2 separate regions of the Homo sapiens genome follow, and region 2 is linked to region 1. A link means that fine-mapping ties the variant in region 1 to the expression of a gene that starts in the linked region. Tissue or cell type: thyroid. Region 1 holds a variant in brackets; the other region holds the start of a gene. All regions are shown on one strand. Distances are from middle to middle.

Evidence for each region. PIP is the estimated chance that this variant, and not a neighbour inherited with it, causes the effect.
Region 2: LRRN2 starts here. The variant in region 1 is fine-mapped to the expression of LRRN2 in thyroid (GTEx, PIP 0.91).

What each region holds. Positions count from the first base shown.
Region 1 is chr1:204,578,708-204,586,811 of GRCh38, reverse strand. LRRN2-AS1 (LRRN2 antisense RNA 1) reads right to left here. Exons shown (of 13, transcript XR_007066814.1): 3 at 6,403-8,104; 4 at 5,655-5,732; 5 at 1,229-1,382. Among named protein-coding and RNA genes, the nearest start is that of LRRN2-AS1, 19 kb to the right of the region's middle. RefSeq lists an enhancer at 8,036-8,104. The variant C/T (reference allele first, on the strand shown) is at 3,582.
Region 2 is chr1:204,682,250-204,690,353 of GRCh38, reverse strand. It overlaps LRRN2 (leucine rich repeat neuronal 2), which reads left to right and starts at 4,616. Exons shown (of 2, transcript NM_201630.2): 1 at 4,616-5,034.

The DNA of each region.
Region 1 (8,104 bases):
CAAATGAGTGGAAAACTTATGTCCACAAAAAAACCCACACACAGATGTTTATAGCAGCTTTGTTCCTAGTTGCCAAAACTTGGAAGCAACCAAGGTGTCCTTCAGGAGGTGGAAGGATAAATAAACTGTGGTACATCCAGACAATGGAATATTATTCAGCGCTAAAAGGAAATGAGCAGCCAGGTGCTGTGGCATTCGCTTGTAATCCCAGCTACTTGGCTGGTTGAGGCAGGAGGATGGCTTGAGCCCAGAAGTTCAAGATCAGCCTGGGCAACATAGTGAGCAAGACCCCATCTCAAAAAAAAAAACAAAAAACAAAAAAAAAAAAAAAAGAGAGAGAGACAAGAGAGAGCCAAAAAAGAAATAGAAAAGAGCTGCCAGGCATGGTGGCTCATTCCCGTAATCCTAGCACTTTGAGAGGCCGAAGCGGGTGGATCACCTGAGGTCAGGAGTTCGAGACCAGCCTGGCCAACCTGGTGAAACCCCGTCTCTACTAAAAATACAAAAATTAGCTGGGCGTGGTGGCGGGTGCCTATAATCCCAGCTACTCGGGAGGCTGAGGCAGGAGAATCACTTGAAACTTGGAGGCAGAGGTTGCAGTGAGCCGAGATCACACCACTGCACTCCAGCCTAGGCAACAGAGCAAGACTCTGTCTCAAACAATAAATAAATAAAATAAAAATAAAGAAAGACTGGTTAAACCATGAGCACAGAGAGACTGCCCAGCACACCAGGAAGAGACAGAAAAACAGCAAGCCAGGTCTCTGCAAGGGTTCCACATATGGCCTGAATGTATAATTTGGAAAAACTGCCACCCCTACCTACCCCATGCATCCCAGCCACCCCCCCCGCCCTCCCTCTGAACCCCCAAGTTTGCACCTTCTTACCTGTCCCCAACAAATCGCAGCCAGCCCGGGCTCCCCATGTTGGGAAAGGAAACCTCGGTCAGAGACTCCACGGTCCACATTTTTAGGTGGGGGTGGGTTTGGCAGATTGGGAGTGGGGATGGAGAGAGGGGAGATGTTTGAGGGGGTAAGGGAAATAGGGAACCAGCTGGGAGGGAGGAGGAGCAGAAGAATAGGAAGGGAAAGAGGTAGAGGAGGGAAAGGAAAGGAAAGGAAAGAAGAGGGGCCTGGAGGAGGGAGAAGGAAAGACAAAGGCCTGCTGGGAACCAACCCAGTAGGAATTACACTCATTTTTTTTCAAATTTCTGGAAGCTAGCATTTACCTAGGTGGGAAAGGGAGCTTCTTCGCAAATATCCGACACATGTATGAGTGTACGTTGCAGGTATGAATGTGAATGGCAACGGGACATAGCGCTGGCTGTGGCTGTGGCTGTGGCTGCGGGTGCAGATGGAGGGGATGCGGGTGCCGTACACATCCTGATAAGGAAAAGAGAAATGGGGAGAGGCCTCAAAATAAGCAAACCACTCTTCGACAGCCCTAACAAATCTGTTTTTGTTTCCTGTGTGTCTTCCCTGTCCTCATCCATGTGTACGTGTGACCTTTACCTCTTTAACACACCAGAGTTGAGGGTGGCAAAGCCATGCCACATCCAGCAGAGTCCCAGACCACAGTCCGCAGATGCCTTCTGAAGTCACCTCCTCCTAGCAAGCCCCTCCCCAACTAATGCCCCACACCTGCCCCACCCCTCCCCACTTCCGCCAGGCTCTGGGCCTGGTCTTGCGTCTGCTTTGCATTTCCCGTGAGTGCTCCACTGCTCCTCTCAGGCTCTAGACATCACCCCTCCCCAGGACTGCAGTGTCTCTGCCTTTTCTGAATCAAGGCCCCCACCCCGCCTTCCTGGGCCCGAGGTGGCTGGAAGGTTTGCACAGAGCTAGCGGTTCTGAGGTGCTGGGAATGCACAGGGTCAGTGCCTCCTCGGTGCACAACATAAGTACCTTTCTATGTCATGTGTAGTCTTTGTGGCATAAGGTTACTGACCGTGTTATAGGCCACCCACAAGATGTCCTCTCTCCCTAACCATTGCCCTAGGGTTGAAAACATTGGATGACTACAAAAAAAAAAAAAAAAAGAGTTTTTCCCTTTGAAAAATGTTCCCTGTGAGCCTGAGAGGTGAGGAGGAAGGCATTTCTTCAGCTCCTTGAAGCGGGTAGGTCCAAAAGCTGCCTGCTCTGCAGAGAGCCCGGGAGAATGGGTGTTTCCTGGTGTCCTGCCTTACCTGACATCACTCCAGTAGCCCCTGGGGAGCATCTGAGAGGAACCCAATCCCAGGAGCACTATCACTTGGTAGGATTACTACCATTTAATTTGCCACATTGCTTTTTAATATGCTTTTTGTGCCATCTCCTCTGGTAAATCATAAGTGTCCTAAGGGCTGGTTACATTCTATTCATCTCTCAGTGCCTGGCACCTGGCCCAGTGCCTGCCACATTGTGATATAAACAAGCAGAGCAACCACTGAGTGAGCACCTACCCTGTGCCAGGCACAAGCACTTGACAGGCATAAATGACGTATAAATAGATGCCACTATTATGCCCACTTCACAGATGCTGAGATAGAAGCCCAGAGAGGTGAATTAACATGGCCATGGTCACACAGGGAATAAAAACCCAACTCACGTTTAGGCTTCTCAGTTTCTAGGGGAAACTTCCCTGAAATATTCTCAGGCAGCAGAAATCTGGAGCCAGCTCCAGGTCTGAGAGAGATGGCGCAGAAGCAGCACTGCCCCAGGCCCTGCCTCTGTTGTGCAATAAGTGGCGCCAAGGATTTAGAATTTCCCCAGAACTGAAATAATGATCATAAGCATCTTTATTACAAGATGTGCACTGCTTTTGCAATCTGCTTTTGTTTTTTTTGTTTCTTGTTTTTTTTTTGTTGTTGTTGTTATTTGTTTGTTTTGAGACAGGGTCTCTCTCTGTCACCCAGCCTGGAGTGCAGTGGTGTAATCTCAGCTCACCGCAACCTCTGCCTCCTGGGCTCAAGTGATCCTCCCACCCCAGACTCCCGAGTAGCTGGGACTGCCGGCGTGTGCCACCATCCTCGGCTGATTTTTGTACTTTTTGTAGACACAGGGTTTTGCCATGTTGCCCAGGCTCGTCTCAAGCTCCTGGGCTCAAGTAATCCACCCGCCTTGGCCTCCCAAAGTGTTGGGATTATAGGCGTGAGCCACTGCACTCGGCCTGCAATCTGCTTTTGAAAGCACTTTTCTATCAAATGTCTTTTTAGATGCTATGAGGAAGCCAAGGCAGGTATCATTTCATTTCTGATGAAGAAACTGAGACTCAGAGAAATGACCGTCCAAGACCACACGGCGAGGTGAAGGCAGGAATGGCATCTGTGTGCTGGAAAGACTTTCAGAAGAGGATGCTAGGCCTGGCGTGGTGGCTCACACCTGTAATTCCAGCACTTTGGGAGGATCACGAGGTCAAGAGATGGAGACCATCCTGGCCAGCATGGTGAAACCCCATCTCTACTAAAAATACAAAAATTAGCCAGGCGTGGTTGCGTGTGCCTGTAGTCCCAGCTACTTGGGAGGCTGAGGCAGGAGAATCGCTTGAACCCAGGAGGCGGAGGTTTCAGTGAGCCGAGACTGCACCACTGCACTCCAGCTTGACAA[C/T]AAAGCAAGACTGTCTCAAAAAAAAAAAAAAGAAGAGAGAGAAAAAGAGGATGCTCTTCCTCTAATACAAGTATGGGTAACAGCCCTGCCTTTCTGCCCATTTACCAACAGCTCCAGGTGCCCACAGGGGACAGTCTCTGTCCTCAGGGCTAGGTCTCAGGGCCATGCTGACTGCACACCGACCTGCTCCCTTCTTGAAGGCAGAGGCTGGATTTTGAGCACTCCAGTTAGTGCAGGGACAGCACGGGACCCCTGTACCTCAGTGGCTGCACACTCCAAGGCCGAGTTTATGAAGGAGGACCAGCAGTCATCTACTTCCCCTGTCAAACACCATTACAGACTTGCAAACGCCAGTCTCTAAAGTTGGCTCTCTAGGCTGGATCTGTTCAAGTAAGCTGCATCAGCCAGTCAGTCACAGAGGAATTGGCCCCTCCACCCCCAAAAGACCCCTAAACCAAAGCCTGGGTGGCAGAGCAGTTGCCACCATCAAGCCAAGCTTGGACATCTAGGCTGAACTATGAAGGGTACACCGTTGAGATAGACAGTCCCTGGCCTTGTAGCCAAAGTGTCCAGTGTTCTGTTGTGTGGGCATCTAGGGGAGTCCTAAGGGATCAGCTGCCCAGCAGCCTTTTTCTAGAAATACAGGCACATCCACATGGATACAACAAGATCTCCAGGAGCCACGTGTCCTTCCTGTCCCCCGACAGCCACACTGATGGGACCAGCTGTGCATAGCCCACCTAAGCTGCGCATCTCAGAGTCCTTCCCTGAGCATTTGGAACCAAGAGACTCCAGGGTAGCCTGGCTTTCTCATAAACACAGGGACATAAACTTCAGAAATATTAGTGGTGGCCGTTCTCCTCCTTGGAGTCAAGAATAGAGAGAAAGCCAGTCTACAGCAAGAGAAAAGAATGAGGCAGCCCTGAAAAGAGGAGGGAGGCCCACTTGCATCCATGCCTTTGGGTTCCATGATACCTTAAGACTTTTCTCACAAAGTCCCCATTTTTGCTTAGAGTTGGTTTCTGTTACTTGTAACCAATAGAGTTAATACAGTATAACTCCATCATTCTCAACCAGGGGCGATTTTGTTCCCCAGGGGACATTTGGTGATGTCTGGAGATATTTTTGGTTATCATAACTGGGGGAAAGGGGGTGCTACTGACATCTAGTAGGTGGTCAGGGATGCTGATAAACATCCTACAATGCACGGGGCAGCCCCTCACACCAGGAACCATCTAGTCCAAAATGTCAAGTTGACAAGCACCATGCTTGTCAAAGACAGGAGCGATCATCATGAAAAAATAGGCTTTGTGTCTCACTTCTCCATTTGGCAAAGACTCTTTCATTTTAAACAATATTCTGGTGGTGAGAATTCTCATACCTTGATAGCAGGAGGACAGACAATGAGTGCAACCTCTATGAAGAATCATTTAACAAGACATTTACCTGGGGCCTTAACATGTTCACTGTTAAATCAGCAATTTACTTTGTAGAATTTATTCTTGGTAGAAAATCTTAATTCAGATATACACAAAGATTTATGCAAAAGGATGTTCAGTGTAGCTTTATTTATAATGGTGAAAAATGGAAACAACTTAAATATCAACCACTGGGTATTGGTTACATAAATTATGATACATTCATAGCACAGAATAATATATGTAGCACTTAAAATTATGTTTATGAAGATTATTTAGTAACACAGGGAAATGCTCATTATGTTAACTGAAAAGCCAGAATATAAAATTTTTGAAATATGCATAAGCACAGAAAAAAAGGCTGCAGGGAAATATATCAAAATATTAACTGTGGCTATCTCTAGGGACTAGGATCACAGCTATTTTTTTGTTTTCCTATTTTTAAAAAATATTTTCCAATTTTTCTGCAATTAACATGTATTATAATTTGGAATTTAATACTAGAAAGGAATCGTGATATCAGAATTTAGGATAGTCTAGATTATTCATTCATCAAAAAATAAATAAATAAATATATATATATATATATATATATATATTAAGAGCCTACCATGTGCTAGACGGACATTGTGAATAGGCAGACAAGGCCACTGACCTCAAGGGGTTTCCAGTCCAGGAGAGGAAGCACTTCAGAGGTTCCAACTATTTGCAAATTCACTGTTATAGAAACCATCTGAAAAGGATTTGTTATTAACACTTAAATAGCTACCATTTGTTGAGAGCTTATTATGTCAGTACTAGATGCCTTACAATTTTGATCTCATTATCTCTGCATAACACCCCGAAAAAATATGGTTAAGTCTTGGTCACATGGCTGGTGGGCAGTGGCCAGGATTCAAACCATATCTATTTACCATCAGCACAAATTCCCAGTCTCCTCTGCTCCCTGCCTCAGTGACAGGGGTCATTTCAGGACCATAAGATATGGCAAACTGGAGCCACCAAGAAAGATTTTAAAGTCTAGAAAGCCAGATAGAAAAGGGTATGCAGGCCAGGTATGGTGGCTCACAACTGTAATCCCAGCACTTTGGGAGGCCAAGGTGAGAGGATTGCCTGAGTCCAGGAGTTCAAGACCAGCCTGGGCAACATAGTGAGACCTTGTCAACAAAAAAATTTTAAAAAGACAAAATTAGCCAGGTATCGTGGTGCACACCTGTGGTCCCAGCTACTCTGGAGGCTGAGGTGGGTGGATGGCTTCAACCTGGGAGGTTGAGGCTTCAGCGAGCCTTGATCTTGCCACTTGGGCTTCAGCCTGGGCAAGATCCTGTCTCAAAAAAAAAAAAAAAGAGAGAGAAAAGAAAGAAAAGAAAGAGGCATGAGTGGGAGGAATGTAGGCCACTGACCAGATATCCAGCAGGAGGCCAAGAGTGAAGTTGTTTGCAGTGTTAGGGAAGGTCGTGGGGCCAGGGCTGGGGCAGAAGGGTGGTCACTGTCACAGATGAGCTCTGAGCTGCCCATGAGAAGGAAGAAATAGAGAAAAAGCAAAACCATTTAAGAAGTGGAGATAGAAAGACGAGCGCTTTGATGTACATTGGAATGGCTGCAGCTGCGGCCAGAAAGGAGCACGTCCTCTCCCCAGAGGTGAGTCTATTAGAGAAGGTTCCACACAGTGAGAGGGGAGCACAGAGGGGAATGAGCTTGTGCTGCAAACCAAAGCTCAGGGGACTCCAAGAAAACACGGAAATCAGGAGACCTCATGGGTTGTTGTAAAGGGCTATTGAGATGGCCTCCTCCCAGAAGAAATCAACAGAAAGGGTCCTGCTTCTTGGTGACCCAGAAGCCCGGGATAGGCTGGGTGTGGAGAGAAAGGGAAGCTGCGGAAGTCAAACTGGGGACTATTAGGAGCTTGGATCACTGGATTAACTTTGCAAAGTGAATTAAGTAATGAAGCTGGATGCAGATGGTGGAGCAACCGGGGTAGTTTGTGACTGGGAGGGACTAGTTTCTGCACTTCCAACAGCTGGCTGAACAGGTTAAATGCTCCACTCAAAGCCCAGGTCATTACCGTTGGTGGTGACATCCTGGCCCCTTCAGTGACAGACACAGAGGATCACCGTGGAGAAACACCAGGGAAGCTGAAGCTGATTTCCACTCACAATCTCGTTGTGTGCTTTGGTTCAGACATTTTTTTTTTTTGGTTCAGAAACTTCCAGGGGAAAACACCAGGCTAGGAGTCCAGAGGCCCGAGTGCGAGTCCCGGGACTCCTGTAAGTCACAGGAGCGGACGCATGCCACTTACCCGTGTCCTCAGCTGGAAAGTGAGAATGACGGTGCCACCCTCTCCTTCTCGGGCCTCCCCTGCCCAGTTTTCTCGGTGCCTCAGTGCCCTCCTCCAGACAGAGGGGGTGAGGAAAGTGCTTGCTTCGCAGGGCAGTGATGAGGGTCCAAGGAGGCAGCGCACGGTAAACTCCCTCCGAGGAAGCCAGGCTCGCAGTCAGCACTCAGCATCGTTGTTGCTGCTGCTTCTGCTGTTGTTTTTAGGCTAACTGGAGATAATAGATGTGAAAGTGTTTTGAGAAATACAAAGCACTCTATGTTCCAATAAAAGGTGTGGTTTCCATTCTTCCCTCTTCCTGTTTCATTTCTCAAAACTCCCCTCTGCACTGCTGGACTGAGCTATTGAACATGTCCCATCTCCCACAGGCTCCCCTGCCTCCAGAGCCCCCATCCCCTCCCCTTCACCCCCTCCTTCCTGGCACACAAAGCCCAACCCTTCTTCCTCTCCCCTGGGAGCCTCCCCTGATCCAGGCTGGGCTGGAGCCTCCTCCTCTCGGTTTCACCAGCACCCGTTGACTGCTGGCTGCACATACTGCAAATTTTCTGTGCTTTCATTTTTGGTTTTGTTTTGTCTTTTTCAGTCTTTTTCCTGCACTCTCCCCACCCTGACATAAGTTTCTTGGGCACAGACAGGGTGTCTAATTTGTCATTGCATGCCCAGAATCTAGCAAAGTCCAGGCATATTATCGTAAGCCCAGCAAATGTACACGGATTTGAATGAATGAGGAAATAAGATCATGTATATGAAGTCACCTTTTATGGTCTTAG
Region 2 (8,104 bases), 100 kb before region 1:
CTCCATCTCAGGGAAAAAAAAGAAAAGAAAAAGAAATACAGGGCCGGGTGTGGTGGCTCATACCTGTAATTCCAGCACTTTGGGAGGCTGAGGCGGGTGGATCACTTGAGGTCAGGAGTTCGAGACCAGCCTGGCCTACATAGTGAAACCCCGTTTCTACTAAAAATGCAAAAATTAGCTGGCCGTGGTGGCACGCGCCTGTAGTCCCAGCTATTCGAGAGGCTGAGGCAGGAAAATCGCTTGAAACTGGGAGGTGGAGGTTGTAGTGAACCAAGATCTTGCCACTGTACTCCAGCATGGGTGGCAGAGCGAGACTCCATCTTAAAAAAAAAACAGAGTAGAGGTGTATCATTTATGGTTGATTAAATATGGTGTCTGTGGTGTTTGTGCTTATGCCTATAAAAAGTTGGGCACCGGGACATTGGTGAGGAATGTAATTTTTATGATCACATTGTTTCTGGGCAAAAACAGGTTCAACCTACATCATTTTTACCTGCAGTGCCTTTTCCAGGAATATAACCCAAGATAAATTTGAAGACTCCCTGCAGTTCCACACAGCTCTGCCATCTGCAACGTGTGTCTCTCTGCCTTTGCGGTTTTCTGTGTTCCAAGGGTGTCTGTGGATCCTGGGAGCTCCCTGAGGGCAGGGGTCAGGGAAGATCCCAGTTCTGTGGGGCCGTCTTAAGAAAAAACCCGCAAAATTCCAAATACAAAATTAGGTACAACAGTGATATTTACTTACGGCCAGCAAGAAGATAACAATTTACATGAGCCTTGGACATTCAGGGTCCCTTTCTCCTGACATTTCTTCATTCCATTTACCAGAAATCCTTACATAAAAATGCTTCCTGTTCGTAAACTGGCTTCCCCTCTTCACCTAGGACACTCTACAGTTCCCAGCTTTCATAGCCCACCCTCTCCCCACCATCCTGCAAGTCGAGAAGCCCTAAAACTTGAGCTTCATTCCCTTCACCTCTGCCTCTGCCTCTGCCTTCACTTGTTCTCTAATAGCCCAGAGAACAAGGCTCTGCACATGGGGAGCCCGGGCAGGGGACGGTCAGAGAGCAATGGGCACCCCCAGGCCAGTCTGTCTCACAGTGAGGTCATCCAACCACCTGAATCAGAATCCCCTGGATGGTTTATCTGAAATGCAGACTCTGAGAACTACAGAATCTGACTCTGGGGTAGGACCTCAGCACCTGCATTGGCCCACACTCTCCAGGTGATTCCAAGGTCCACTGCTCTAGTGCCTTACTCTCTGCCTAGTTGGGTCACTGGTGGGGGACAACAGTCCTCATTGACTCCCCAGACCCCACCCCATATCTCCCAAGGAGGCTGAGCAGAGGCTGCACACAACACACAGTGTCGTGTGTGTGGAGGGTCCACTGAGGGACCCTCAGTGACCCATGCCACATCCCAGGCCTCCCTTCTCTGATTCGGCTCATGTGCCAGGCACCAGTAGGAGCCATCCTCTCCTCACAGCCCCCACCACACAAACAGCATCCCCACCAGTTCCATATCCTGACCCCTATATGAGAGAGCCACCTGGAATTGAGCTAAGGATCATTTCTAGCAGCATGTAATCCCTGCATCCCTCTCCCAAGACACTCTGATGTCACGGAGTTCCAGGCTTCCTGGTGGGAAATAATGCATGGCCAAGCCCAGAAATTAAATTTGGAGGGTGAAAGGTCAATAACAGGGCCATTAAATCCTCTGGGTAATTACCTAAGAGCTTCCAAAGGACTGTGAATTGGGGCAGCTTTTCCCAGGAAAGTATGAGACTCAGAATGGCAGCAATGGGAGCAGGGTTGGGAGAAAAATGTCAACCACATACCATGCACCAGCCACTGTGCTCATGCCAGCCATATAGTCCCTGTAACATCTCACAGCAACCTATAAGTATGAATCCATTCCATTATTGCTATCTTCATCCTAAAGAAGTGCTAGGGAGACTTGGCTTGGTGTTTGGACTCTGTCATTTGAGGACCCTGGATTCCCGTCTTAGCTCTGTTACATACTGGTTAGGTAAACACTGAACCTTGTTTTTCTCCTATCACTAGAGTCCTAGTATTGGTCAAATTTTTGATGAGATGATGCATAAATGTGCTAGCACCTTGCCTTGCATGTAGTAGGTGCTCAATAAATGTTAACTGCTATTACTTGAATTAATATCGTTACTCAGGAAAGAATCAGAGCTGGGGAAGTTCAATACTTTGCCTGAAGCAAGACAGAGTAAATGGACAAGTAGAGTTCCAAATCCAAATCTTTCCAGCTCTAAAAGCTACACTCTTTCTCCAATCTCATTGGGTTCTAAGACATTTGGAGTCAGCTCAAGATAAGCCTTCCCCTATTTTCTTCTCACAGCTGATGAAATTCCCTTATGCCTCATCTAGTACATCTCACAGGCTTTGCCACTCAGGATCAACCACTTAGTGAACGTTACTTGCATTTATCCCATTTATTATTTCAATAATCAGTTATTGGACATCTACTATAAAGGACTGGTCTTATCTTATTAAGGTGTAAGACAGTCATAGGCTCCAGAAGCTTACCCTCTGGTTAGGAGATAAGACACTTGAGTATGCATAGTTATTGGGAAGCTGGGGTGCTGACATGAGTGCTCTCTCCGGTCGTGCAGTTGGTAAAGGACTCCTAAAATGTCCTCCTTTTCACCATCATCCTGTCTACATTGACATTGGCCCTTAGACTGGAAAGGTGGCTCCAGTGACTCGACAAGGGACTCAAATGCTCAGGCTAAAAGCTTGGAGTCAAGTTTTGACCCCTTTCAATCAGTCAGTCTTACAGTTCTGCCAAGTCTTCTTTACAAAGGCCCATGCATTTACTCTATTCTCACTGCTCCCCTCCTCCTAGATTCCTGCAACAGCTACCTCAATAGTCTCCCATCCTCCTGCCTCTTTCATCCCAAATCACCTGAGGATGGGTCCACAGATAAACTGCTGAGCCTGGCAATTCGGGCCCTTCATCAGCTGCTCCCACCCTGTATACTCAATGTGGCATTGTCGCACTGTGAAAATGAGGTCTCACATTCTGCCTACAGATTTTGGGCTACTGCCTTAAACGATCTGGGCCTCCATCCCCCGGTCTGTTAAAAGGGGATATTAGTCAACTCAGAGTCTAAGATGACAGAGATGAGAAAAGGCTGGCATCTAATAGTAGCTCTATAATTTTCCTCCCTTGCCCCCTACCCTCCAGACAACCCATTCTACTCTGCTTGTCTCCACTTTCCTGCCTTTGCTGGTCCCCATATTCTCTTCCAGTTCAAATCCTATCCCTCCAACTAGGCTCAGTTGGAGACTCAGCTCCTCCGTTAAACCTTTTGTGAATAATGCTAGTCCATTAAGGTGGTTTCTTTTTGTATTTCTATGGCACTTCCATCGTCTTGAAATATTAAAATTGGTTTCATATAGTTCCAACCTGTCACTCTGAGCTCCTTGAGGCCATTATGCTCCGTAGCAGGGGTGGAGAGTGGGAACATGGGGGTGGTTTAGTGGGAACTTAATATGTGCTCATTCAATATATGAAGGTGAGAATCCCCTCTGTGCATACAGAACTCAGACCTTCAAGCCAACTTCACAAAAGCCACCAGGCATGGCAGTCACCACTGGCTGTACCCTTGGAAAAGACAGGGCCAGAAGCTCAAGCACTGGATGACGGCAGGCAGCCCAGGGAAGCCACTCCTCACAGGACTCCACACCTTGGCCTCCACCTCATCCATTCCCCTGTTGTTGGTTCTGCAGGCTCTGGTCCAGACCCATCAGTAGGGTGTGGCCTGCCATGGAGCCGAGTTTGTGATGTCTGTTCTGAGTGGTCCAGGCTGAAGTCCCCACCAAGGCATGGGTGTTGGGCATTGGGCCTTTGCCCTCCTCTAGTGGCAGTCACCCAGCTTTTCTAAGCCACCAGGCAGCAGCCTAGCACCCACCTTTGGCACCTTCTTACTTTCCTCCCCCAGTCTTCATGATGTCCAGCTGGCAGAGTGGGGAACCCTGAAGCCAAACCCCTAACTGGGCCTGCCAGTTCCTGACTGAAATTGACCTCCTTCATTGAGAGCCAGGACGGAATCTTCCAGAATGCTAGAGCTGCACGGCTCAGGATGCAATGCTGGAAAAGCATGACAACTAAAGGGGTCTTCCACTCCATTCTTTAGGGTGAGAGGTGCCTGGGCCCAGTGACAAATTCTCACCCACCCCACTACATTCCTTAGTCCACTGTTAACTTCGGGAGGGTAGCACCATGCAAAGCAAAAATGTGATCTTAGGTGCATGCTGTGACTGTGAGCTGCACCTGTCCTCACAAAGCTGCTGAATTCCCCATTCGTCTCCTGGCCTTTGCAAGAGGGTCCGAGGCAGTATGAGAGAAGCCAACCCTTCTCTTCCCGGACCCAAGGGCTGTGCCCCTTCTCTCAGCCAAGCCTTGTGTCTCTAGGCACAAGGACAGCTCAAGCGTTAGCGTCTGGCCCCACCCAACTCCTTCCTCCCGGGTGTGTGTGCGTTAGGTAGAGGGGGCCTCTGGCCACTCAGGAGTTAAAATGGCAGCGGGACTGGAGGGGGTTGGCGTGGCATGCAGACTGGGAGGAGGCGACCGGAGTGGGCTGGGGAGGTTGGGAGAGCGGCGGAGAAGCGAGTGAGGAGGGCGAGCGCGAAGCCGGGAAGAGGGGCGCGCGTGGAGGGGGTGCCGGGCGCCGCGAGGGCCTGCTCCGGGCACCTGCGAACGCGCGGCGCTCTCAAGGAGCGCCTGGCTCTCGCCCGCCAGCCTCCGGCCGCGACGCGCCCAGGGCGCGGAGAGGGGGTGGGGACGGATTGGGATTCTGCCATCGCCCTCACCGGCTGGGCCCTGGAGCCGCTCCCAGGATAACTCCACGTTGGGGAGGGCGCCCGCCGAGCCTCCCCGGCCTGTGCAGACGGCGCGCGCGGCGGGAGGGCGCGGACCAGCGTCCCCAGCCCGGCCCCGGGCGGAAGGCGAGCGGAGCGCGGCCGCGCGGGCAGCAGACGGCAGACGGTGCCCGGCGCCCACGGGGTGAGTGTGCAGCTTCGGGGCTGACCTGGGCAGCGCCGCCGCCGCCGGGGAATCGTGGACACCGAGGTCGCTGGCGTGGCCGAGGCGTACGCGGCGGGAGCGGCCGGAGCAGCCGCCTCAGGGCTCCTGGCTCCTGCCCCGGCACCGCAGCTCCGCCTGACCCGGGTGGGGGCCAGAGGAGGGCCGGCCGCTGCCTTCCGCCGAGACGCCTGCGGGGGAGCCGGAGACTTGGGAGAGGGAGGCGGCCGAGGGGCAGAGGGACGGAGGGCTGGAGAATGCCCAGAAGCGGCCAGGGAGAGGGCGCCTGGGCCTTCGCCTGGAGAGGCCAGAACCTCCCCCAAACTGTTGCTGGGTAGAGTGGGGCCCTGGAGATGTGGAGGAGCCGAGAGGTGGCAGTGAGGTTAGGGAGGGCGTGACACGGGCGGACTGGCAGGCTGGAAGCGCTCCAGAGCCTGGGGACTTTCTCCTCCTTGGAGCTCGCGAGTCTGTGCGGAGGGACAAGGTGGCCTTGGGTCTGTCTGAAGTATCTGGAACCAGGAGCTAGGCTCCTCCCGGGCCGGCTGGCTGGGGTCCGACCGCAGCCTGGGATGGGACCTTTGGGGTGGGGGATGGGCCGGCCTGGGGCTCAGCCTGGGGACTCGGTCAGGGGGAAGCGGAAACGGAAGGGTGGCTCTGAGCCCACCGCAGGACCCAGGAGACAGGATGGGCTGGCCAGCCACAGGTGGGCCGTCTGTCCTGCTGGCAAAGGGTGGCGCAGGCTCTGGCTGCCCAGCCGGCGAGGAGCCGCGGGGTGAGGGAACTGAGCTCCATCTGGGGCCGAGCGGAGAAGCTAAAGAGGTGCAGGAGACCCGGAACCTGGGGAGGGGCCCCGGGGGTAGCACTGTGCTCCCTACCCTTCCTCCCCCACCCAAACGAACAGGAAGGAAAATGTCAGCTGGGCTTTGTGCTCTGTTCCTCAGGCTGCCGCAGCTCCCATCTGTTGGAGCCAACGCAGCTTCTAACTGGGCGACTGGCAGGGTTGGAGGGGGTGGGCTGGGCACAGCGCTCAGTTGCCAGAGATGGACTGACAGGCCCTCTGCTTGAGAACTCCAGGACCTAGGGTGGTGAGGAGAACAGCCTCCCTAGGTCAGGGCAGTAGAGGTGACTCCCTGCCAGTTTGGTCACTGTCATAGGGGAAGATGTAGGTCTCCCCATGCACCCAGGCCGATGGCAGGCTCCGTGCCCCCCTTTCCCGCCAGTCTAGGATGGGCTCTGGCCCAGCGTTTTGTCCCTGAATAAGAAGGCCAGGAGCTCCTCCCATTGCCCACTGCTTCTTAAAGATCCCTTCAAAAAAGAGCACTGGGCATGGAGGGTAGAGGTGGGCTCTGCACTGGGCACTGGAGCCCCCTTGCCTTTGGGCCCTGTGGCTACCAGAAAAAGCCACATGTGGGTGGCCTGACCCACTTTCCTGGCCAGGTGCTGTTGTGGCGAAACGATGGAAACAGAAGGGCAGAGCTAGGGATCTGAGCCTCCTAGGCCTTCTTCCTTCCCCTGTGCTGACTCAGGCTTCTCCTTCTTGCGGAGGGCTCTCTCTGGTCCTGGGATGGGTCCTCATTATTTGCAAAGCATGGAACTAAAGGCCTCAGTGCCTGGGAGATTGAGGTCTGCCCAGGGTCTGGCACCTAGGAACACCCCCAAATCCACACCCTCTCCCTAATGCAGTCTCCTCCCGGGGAAACACCGAGTGGCAGTAAGATCTCAGAGATCTGCTAATTCCATCCAGGCTAGTACAGCAGGTTCCCTCTCTAATTCAACACAGTTCTTCCTCACTTCCCATCCTATTTTCCCTGTGCCTCCCCTCTTCCTCCTCCCCCTCATCCTCCTCTCCTTCCTTCACTCTTCACTTTCCTCCTCTAACACTCTTCACTTCCCTTTTCCCCCTCACACTGCTCTTCCTCTTCTCTCACCCTCCTCATTCTTCCCCAGATATCTCCCTTTCTTCCCAGGCTCTGTCTCCACTTTGCCCTGCTTCTCCTGTAAACTGCAGCTTAAACCGTAAGCCAGGCGTGCACGCACTCCTGCTCATCCTGCCAGTGGGAGCACATGCACTGTTGACTTTGCTGCATCCCTTTTGCAGAGGAGCCTGGGCTGGTGGGCCTGGCAGCTGCATTTGCCTGGCCCTGGTGTCCCTTGAACCCTGTCATTTACTCACCTCCCCCTTCTACTCCCCACACCCTTATGTCGTTTATTTGAAAGGAAAAGGAAACTCCATGGCTTTTAAAAAAATGTATTCATTCAACAACTGTTTCTTGAGTGCCTACTGTGTGCCTCTCATGATTTTAGAAGCTGAAGATACAGCGGTAAACAAACCTCCATGTCTCAAGCTGACCACACTTGTATCTGGACTTGCCAGCTGATTAGCTCTGTTCCCACCAGGCTCGTTCAAAGACCCACAGCTTGAGGGGGCAGAGGTGAGGAACATGAACAATGCTAGTGAATTATCACACTGAGTGACCTCTAACATGCCAGGTACCGCTTAAGTCATCCTGTCCTTAGGATACTTTTCTGACCTGAAAGGATGGACCAGGTCACATCTCACCATTTATCTGGCAGCCCAGGGCAAGTAGAAGGCTGGTGCTTCAGACAGAGAAGGGGGAAGGAATCAAATTTATTATTGAATACCTATTATGCACCAGTCTATGTGAGGAACATTACAAAAGTTATTCTGTTCAGTCGTGCTGACAACCTTCTAATGTCTGCATTACCATCCCCTGTTTCCTAGCCAAGGAAATTGAGGCCTGGAGAGGAGAAACCACTTGCTCCGGGTCATATAGATCTCCATTTTGAAATCACTTGTATCTGCAGTTGATTTGGCCCTATGATATCTGTGACATCTGGTAACTTGTACACTTATACTAAGGCTTACATTCTAACCTAACTTTTCATGGGGCCTTATCTCCCAGTTAGACTATTAATATGTATAAGGATTTGCTGAACGGTTGTGTGAATAAGCTTTCTTAAGTGATCAAGGAAGGCTTCCTGAAGGAACTGGGACCCTGAATGAGGAGGCAGGGAGGGCAATGACTTTTCC